2 linked regions of the Homo sapiens genome follow. The protein of the gene in region 1 purifies or fractionates together with the protein of each later gene. This does not show direct contact. Each region holds a gene or a part of one and is shown on either strand. Other genes may lie near its edges.

Region 1 (3,651 bases):
CATATTTTTAAGGTATGTTTTAAAGCATTACATTTTTTAAAGCACAAATTTAAAGTCCTTCCTGCCTTAAATTCTATTATGGCTGATTTTATAACCTCAAAATATAGAGAGGAGATGTTTTTTTACAATTCCTCTAGGTTGACTTTTCTTTTGTCATGAGCCTCTTTTTGCTTTTTTTTTTTTTTTAAAGAAAGTTCTTCTTGCTAAGCAATCCATTTATAATTTATAGTGACACAAATAGTTGTGACATTTGGAATATTCTATAAGTTTTTTGACAGATATTGTTTATTTTTCACCCGTTCTGCTCTTACAAAGGGCTTTTTGAATGAGTAGGGTTGGTACCTTTCATCCATATGACGTCCCAGCACAATATTTGCTGTTGTCACAGTATAGCTTCTGGCAGTATTTGTAGACTTTAGAGGTAGAAAACTATGTAATGTAGGTACTTTTCATTAAAGTACCTACATCCCCATGATGTGACTTTTTTTGATTCCATACTAGTTTTAATGTTTTTTGTGTCTCCCCCTCTGTTATCATCTTGAACAGAGTTTTAAAAAATTATTTTTAACCCCCGGCATCATTTGTGGATGATATGTTGGCATTCTTTGACTCTGTTCACTGTCAGGCTGCTTTCAGATTTACTGACATGCCATAGAGAGTGAGATGTCACAGAAGCTTTCAATTCACAGTGGCATTCAAATGGGCTGAGAAAGGGCTATGCTTGATTCTGTTCTACTCTGACAGTGTAGCAAATTTGAGAATGGGAAGAATGCTATGTCTCTGGGTAGTGTCCTTTTCTTACCCCAAGACATTATTAAAATGATGGTATTGAATTTATTTTACAATGTTTATGATTTAACAAATAATAAGGTGCTTCGTCGTTAATGTTTCAGGCCAAAGAACAGACAGGAGCAACGGCTTCTGTCATTTATGTTCCTCCGCCTTTTGCTGCTGCTGCCATTAATGAAGCTATTGAGGCAGAAATTCCCTTGGTTGTGTGTATCACTGAAGGAATTCCCCAGCAGGACATGGTACGAGTCAAGCACAAACTGCTGCGCCAGGAAAAGACAAGGCTAATTGGGCCCAACTGCCCTGGAGTCATCAATGTGAGTGCAAAAAAACAAAAAGAAACTCAGATTAAGCCTCTCACAAGGCTAAACAGCTTTGAGTGAATGCGAGTGTATTTGTGTGTATGACCTGTGAGTGACTTTTTTTTTTAACATTTCTGAAAACTATGATTACTTTCAGCCTGGAGAATGTAAAATTGGCATCATGCCTGGCCATATTCACAAAAAAGGAAGGATTGGTGAGTTTGTTTGTTACATTCTTATAGATTAAAACGTTATTTGCCTTAAACCCTCAAAACTCACAAAGAATTTTTGACTTTGCAAATCAAGTTTAATTAATTTGACTTGAGTAGAATTTACCAGGGAAGTTTTGTAGTCTATCAATTCTGTATCTTGAATATAATGAGTTTATTTGAGAAGCCGTTACAATTCTGCAGAATCAGTGAAGATTTTTTTGGTGGTGGGAGTTTAAAGATTTTTTTCTGCTCAGCACTCTGTGGATTACTCCATGTGTTTGCATATATCAGTAGTTAATTTCATTAACTGTTATAACTTAGTTATTGCTAAGGAGTATTCTGTTGTATAATTATACCACAGTTTGTTTATTCATTCTCCCATTAATGAACATTTGGGTTGTTTTCATGTTTGAGCCTTACAAACAAGGCTTAGGTCAACATTTGTGTACAGGTCTTTTTGTGGAAACATTTTCGTTTCTCTTGGGCAAAATGTGTAGGAATGGAATTGCTAAGTCATGTTCATATGAACATAAGTCAAGTATATTTAACTTTATAAGAAACTGCCAAATAGTTCTGCAAAGTGGCTATATCATTTTATATTTTCACCATTAATGTAGGAGAGTTCCACTTGCTCCATATCTTCACAAAGATTTGGTATTGTTAGTCTTCATTTTTTTGAGACAGAGTTTTGCTCTGTCGCCCAGGCTGGAGTGCAATGGCTCGATCTCGGCTTACCCCCACCTCCGCCTCCCAGGTTCAAGTGATTCTCCTGCCTTAGCCTCCCGAGTAGCTGGGATTACAGGCATGCGCCACCACGCCCAGCTAATTTTGTATTTTTAGTAGAGACGGGTTTCTCCATGTTGGTCAGGCTGGCCTCGAACTCCCGACCTCAGGTGATCTGCTGGCCTCGGCCTCTCAAAGTGCTGGGATTACAGGCGTGAGCTACCATGCCCGGCTATTAGCCTTTTTAAATGTAGCCATTCTACTGAGAGTAAAATGGTATCTCTTGTGGTTTTGAGTGTCCCTGATGACTAATAATGTAGAGCACCTTTTCATGTGCTTATAAGGCCATTCACATACCTGCTCAATAATTACCTTGTTCTTTTAGATATCACAAACTTTCTCAAAATGTTTTAGGTTTGTAGGCACCTTAGAAAGCAGGGCAGTGATCAGAAAGGGAACTCAGATGGCCTGTCAGGAAAATTGCCCTGCTACTTGGTTAGTTCCTTGAGGAAATAGCCAAAGTAACATTTCAAAGTTAGCCACATTAGGCTTGTGTTTAGGCTTTACACCAAAATTTCTCTAAACTATACTGTTTTTCAGTCATGAAAGATGATTGACCATATTTTTCTCTATCTATAAACCATGGCTACTAATAAGGGTAATTAATTGTCACAGTGGGTGTCGGCTGTGCAGTTTACAGAATTGGGTTAAAGATCATGATTTTTCTTTATTACCAATGTCTCTTGGAGCTGTCAGCCCTGCTGCCAGTGGCAGTACTTGATAATTTCATTTACAAGAGAGATTTCAGGGAGCTCCATAGGCCATCTGAGTTCCAGTGGGGCCAGATCCATGTATCACTGATGCTCTTGTACATATTTGAATATTTCTTATATTCTTGGGTCTGTTTTGAAGGCTGTGGTCTTAAGGTGAGCATGGAAGGAATGCTCTGTGCTGAGTTGCCTTTCTGATCACTGCTCTGCTTTCTAAGGTGAGCATAAACCTAAAAAATGAAAATCAAGAGAAGTTCAGGGAAGTCCTTTAGACCTTGCCTTTGTGAATGGTCATAACCCATTGATGAGACAGTCGTCTGGGAGACTGCTTTTAATTCCTTTGAAAAAGGACTTTTTTTTTTTTTTTAAAAAAAAGAAGAAAATATGTGACACTGTGTCCAGAGTTGGTTCCTTCCAGTGGGTTCTTGGTCTCGCTGACTTCAATGAAGCCGCGGACCTTCGCAGTGAGTGTTACAGCTCTTAAAGGTGGCATGGACCTGAAGAGTGAGCAGCAGCAAGATTTATTGTGAAGAGTGAAAGAGCAAACCTTCCATGGCATGGAACAGGACCTGAGTGGGTTGCAGCTGCTGACTGGAGTGGCCAGCTTTTATTCCCTTATTTGTCCCCTGCCCGTGTCCTGCTGATTGGTCCATTTTACAAACCTCTAGCTACAGAGCGCTGATTGGTGGGTTTTTATAGAGCACTGGTTAGTGCATTTTACAAACTTCTAGCTAGCTACAGAGCGCTGATTGGTGCGTTTTACAATCCTAGCTACAGAGTGCTGATTGGTGCATTTTATAATCCTCTTGTAAGACAGAAAATTTCTCCAAGTCCCCACTCAACCCAGGAAGTCCA
Region 2 (3,651 bases), on another chromosome or scaffold:
ACTTAAGAATGAGGCTACAGGGGCCGGACATGGTGGCTCACACCTGTAATCCCAGTACTTTGGGGGCCCAAAGCTAGAAGATCACTTAAGGTCAAGAGTTCGAGATCAGTCTGGCCAACATGGTGAAACCCCATCTCTACTAAAAATACAAAAATTAGCTGGGTGTGGTGGCGGGTACCTGTAATCCCAGCTACTCAGGAGGCTGAGGCACGAAATTCCTTGAACCCGGGAGGCAGAGGTTGCAGTGAGTGGAGATCGTGCCACTGCATTCCAGCCTGGGCGACAGAGTGAAACTCTGTCTCAAAAATAAATAAATAAATAAATAAATAAACTAATAAATAAATAAATGAAAGAATGAGGCTACAGGAAGAGACAGAGTATTTTCCTAGACATCTCCGTTAAAGAGAAACGATCACATGTTTGGCCCCTCTTCCACAGTACTAGGAAGCCACTCCTTCTCCCCACAGTGCAACAACCCACATGCAGCCCCTATTGTGACCATCTTGGTACCTTCCTGGCCACCCAGGAAGTACTCTTCAGCTTCCGCATCTGTCCCACCAGCCTATTTCCTCTCTGCATAACAGGAGAATGAATCCGTTTTCACGTTACAACATCTTTTAAAAGCTCCATGCAAATACGCAGTCAACGTCAAAAAGTTGTGTTATAAAATGGTAGCTATAAAAGACTGTATTGCTTTTGTAACCGAAAAATTCAGTCATTAGTACCCACAGGCTGTTCATTCAGTACCAGAAATAGTCAGCGTTCCTAATTATACTTTTGGAAAACAGTTAATCTTCTACAATGCTGCCCGCAGGTAAGCCATTTGCAAGCAACTGAGGCTCTTATGAAGGGTCACAAAAGTGATTCTGCCTCAGGCGCCCAATTATTTCTATAACCATATATTGTTTCTTAGAATCTTAGTATAAAGTCTCATAATGGAAGGGTACATTTTTATAGCTTTATAATAAAACGCAACAGCTTTTTAATACTTTTCCTTTTAAAAAAGGAATTCCTATTTTATAGGAAACGTGATGCTTGCGTTGTATAACACGCATTCATTAAGAATTTGTGCCTTTTTTCTAACTGGGGATAAGAAAAGAGTACTGTAATTGCCTGAAATATTTTCTTGTTCATAAAGCACCTTAACTCTGGTCTTTCAGTCAGTAATTTGCATTTTGTATATTCTTGTTTGTATGTGTAAACATAGCATTTAGAAAATCTGTATTTTATATAAGGCTGGACTTCAAATCTTCTGAAAATCTTCAAAAATGTTGATAGAGGGTATGCAAAATGATTCTGATGCTGATTCTTTAGATATTTCAAGGGAACAGCAATTTCAGAAAATAATATTTCTTTTCATTCCATTATGTCAAATCAAATTGTATTGTGATGGAACTCATCTAACACTGATGAATTTGTTATTGCTTAAAGAAATAAAAATTGCTGGACGCATACCTTAGCCCATTTAACTTTCTCTAATAAATCACTCAGATTTCTTTTAATTGGAACATAATGCTTCCAAGGTTCTAGTGCCATGTAGAAATGTTCATAATATGGCGAGTCCTGCTTTAAAACCAGACTGTCGCCCAGCATGAGATATGGATATCTGTAAGCAGCCACGGTCCCATCCACATTTACTTGATACTTGTACTGGAAGATGAAAAACAAACATAAACAAACTTTCAGTAGTCATTTGCTTCACTTCTGCTCCTCATCAACACTGTAATACCAACTACAGAGGAATTATTTTCCATTTTCCAACTTTTTTGTGTTTAAAAGTTTTATTTTATAACTTACATCTTCTCTTTGTATAAAAATCACAAGCAGCATTTCTCAGATTAATTTTAAGAAATACATTGTTTAAAGGTAAGGTGCTAAATTTTTGGAAATAGGAGTGAAGACCTATTTCAATCATGTCTCTGTAATAATGGAATCCAGATTTCTGTAACAAGGTAGGAAAACTATTTTCTTTTTAAGTTTTAATTAATTATTATTATTATTTTTTTGAGACAGTGTATTGCTCTGTCACCCAGGCTGGAGTGTAGCGGCGTGATCTTGGCTCACTGCAACCTCCACCTCCTGGGTTCATACAATTCTGGTGCCTCAGCCTCCTGAGTAGCTGGGATTACAGGCACCCACCACTGCAGCCAGCTAACTTTTTCCTATTTTTAGTAGAGACAGGGTTTCCCCATGTTGGCCAGGCTGGCCTCAAACTCCTGACCTCAGGTGATTCGCCCGCCTCAGCCTCCCAAAGTGCTGGGATTACAGGCGTGAACCACTACGCCCAGCCAGGAAAACTATTTTCAAAATTCTTAAAGCTCAATACTGATAACAATGAACACTTTCATTTATTCATTATTTCATTTGTTCCTTATACGCAGTCTATGAAACAGGCAGGCATTGTCTCTATTTTACAGTTTTAGAGCTGAGGAGATAGAAACCTGGAGACATTTAAGGACTTGGGCAATGCTGGCAACATAGTAGGTAAGCTGTCTGCATATTTGTTGGGTTAATATACTTTGTTTTCCATTTCAAATGTAGTTTTCATAGGCATTAAACCTCATTCAATTAGAATAATCTGAAGCAGGTATTATTAACCCCTTCTTTTTGTTTTTACAAATGAGAAAACTGGTATTCAGAGAAATGTATAAACCTCATTCTCTGAGTCCAAATCCCCTGTTCTACTCATTGTATCACTCTGGGATGAAGAGGACACACTCCCAGATTTGGTAAATAAATTTTTCTTAAATAATTGGTACAAGGGAGTTTTTGAGCCCATCAGGTTTTGTCACATTGTTCACATCTCTCCTCTGGGCCTCGTGATAATGCTCTGAAGGAGTAGGCAGGCATCACACGGGTTTAAAGACCAAGGCACCAAGACAGGAAGGTCCCATAGTTGGTGGCAGAGGCAGGATTAGAAGCAGGCCTTGAACCCTAATCCCAACTCCCACTTTACATATATGGAATTTATGCTTTTTCTATTTATAAAAGACATTTGAGATCACTTTATGTAAAAGGTATTTATATTCCCAGTTTATGAAAGCAAATACAAAAAAAAAAAAGAAAGAAAAACGAGACATAAATATACCAAAATCCCAGGTTAATCCTTGTACTATATTTTGAGAATTAAGTACAGTTCTGAGCTATTTGGTAAACTTAACAATGAAAGAAGGAAACCACAATGGGTTTTGTAATTCCTGATATCTAATAAGAAAGTGTGAACATGTGTGTCAGTTCACAAGCCAGGTGAAATTTGCTGAAGCCCACCTATTTTGGTAGACTTTTAATACAATTTTATCGCTTCATATCCATAGAAGAAGACTCAAATGCATACCTTAAAGAAATCAAAGAAACCCATCAACTTGGCTTTTCCAAGCTCCTTTTCTTTCTCTTGGAAAAAGAAATATCCTGTAATTCCTGCATCTAGTAGCTGAGGATTTTCTTTGGACAGCTGTACCAACTGGAGCCTCTCCTCTCGGCTGTCTCTACCTCTGAAGAAAGCTCTCTCTGTTTTATTGATCCAGGAAGGCCCTACAAGTTTGAAGCCATAAAAAAATTAGGATTATGAATTTGACATTTTAATATGGCAAGCATAATCCTCTTTAATCTACCATTGTCATTTAAGATGCTAAAGCTCTTTTATCAACTCAT

The links. Proteins that work in one complex are often made in the same cells at the same time.
Region 2: the proteins of SUCLG1 (region 1) and POGLUT3 fractionate together in Homo sapiens (co-fractionation; one large-scale study listed by BioGRID). This does not show direct contact.

What each region holds. Positions count from the first base shown.
Region 1 is NC_000002.12:84,438,702-84,442,352, reverse strand, and holds part of SUCLG1 (succinate--CoA ligase [ADP/GDP-forming] subunit alpha, mitochondrial precursor), read left to right. Parts: intron 1-893; coding exon 894-1,106; intron 1,107-1,248; coding exon 1,249-1,306; intron 1,307-3,651. UniProt on the Homo sapiens protein: Succinyl-CoA synthetase functions in the citric acid cycle (TCA), coupling the hydrolysis of succinyl-CoA to the synthesis of either ATP or GTP and thus represents the only step of substrate-level phosphorylation in the TCA.
Region 2 is NC_000011.10:108,477,846-108,481,496, forward strand, and holds part of POGLUT3 (protein O-glucosyltransferase 3 isoform 1 precursor), read right to left. Parts: intron 3,532-3,651; coding exon 3,335-3,531; exon of another isoform or gene 3,315-3,334; intron 2,485-3,314; exon of another isoform or gene 2,418-2,484; intron 1,651-2,417; coding exon 1,456-1,650; intron 815-1,455; exon of another isoform or gene 619-814; intron 1-618. UniProt on the Homo sapiens protein: Protein glucosyltransferase that catalyzes the transfer of glucose from UDP-glucose to a serine residue within the consensus sequence peptide C-X-N-T-X-G-S-F-X-C. Can also catalyze the transfer of xylose from UDP-xylose but less efficiently.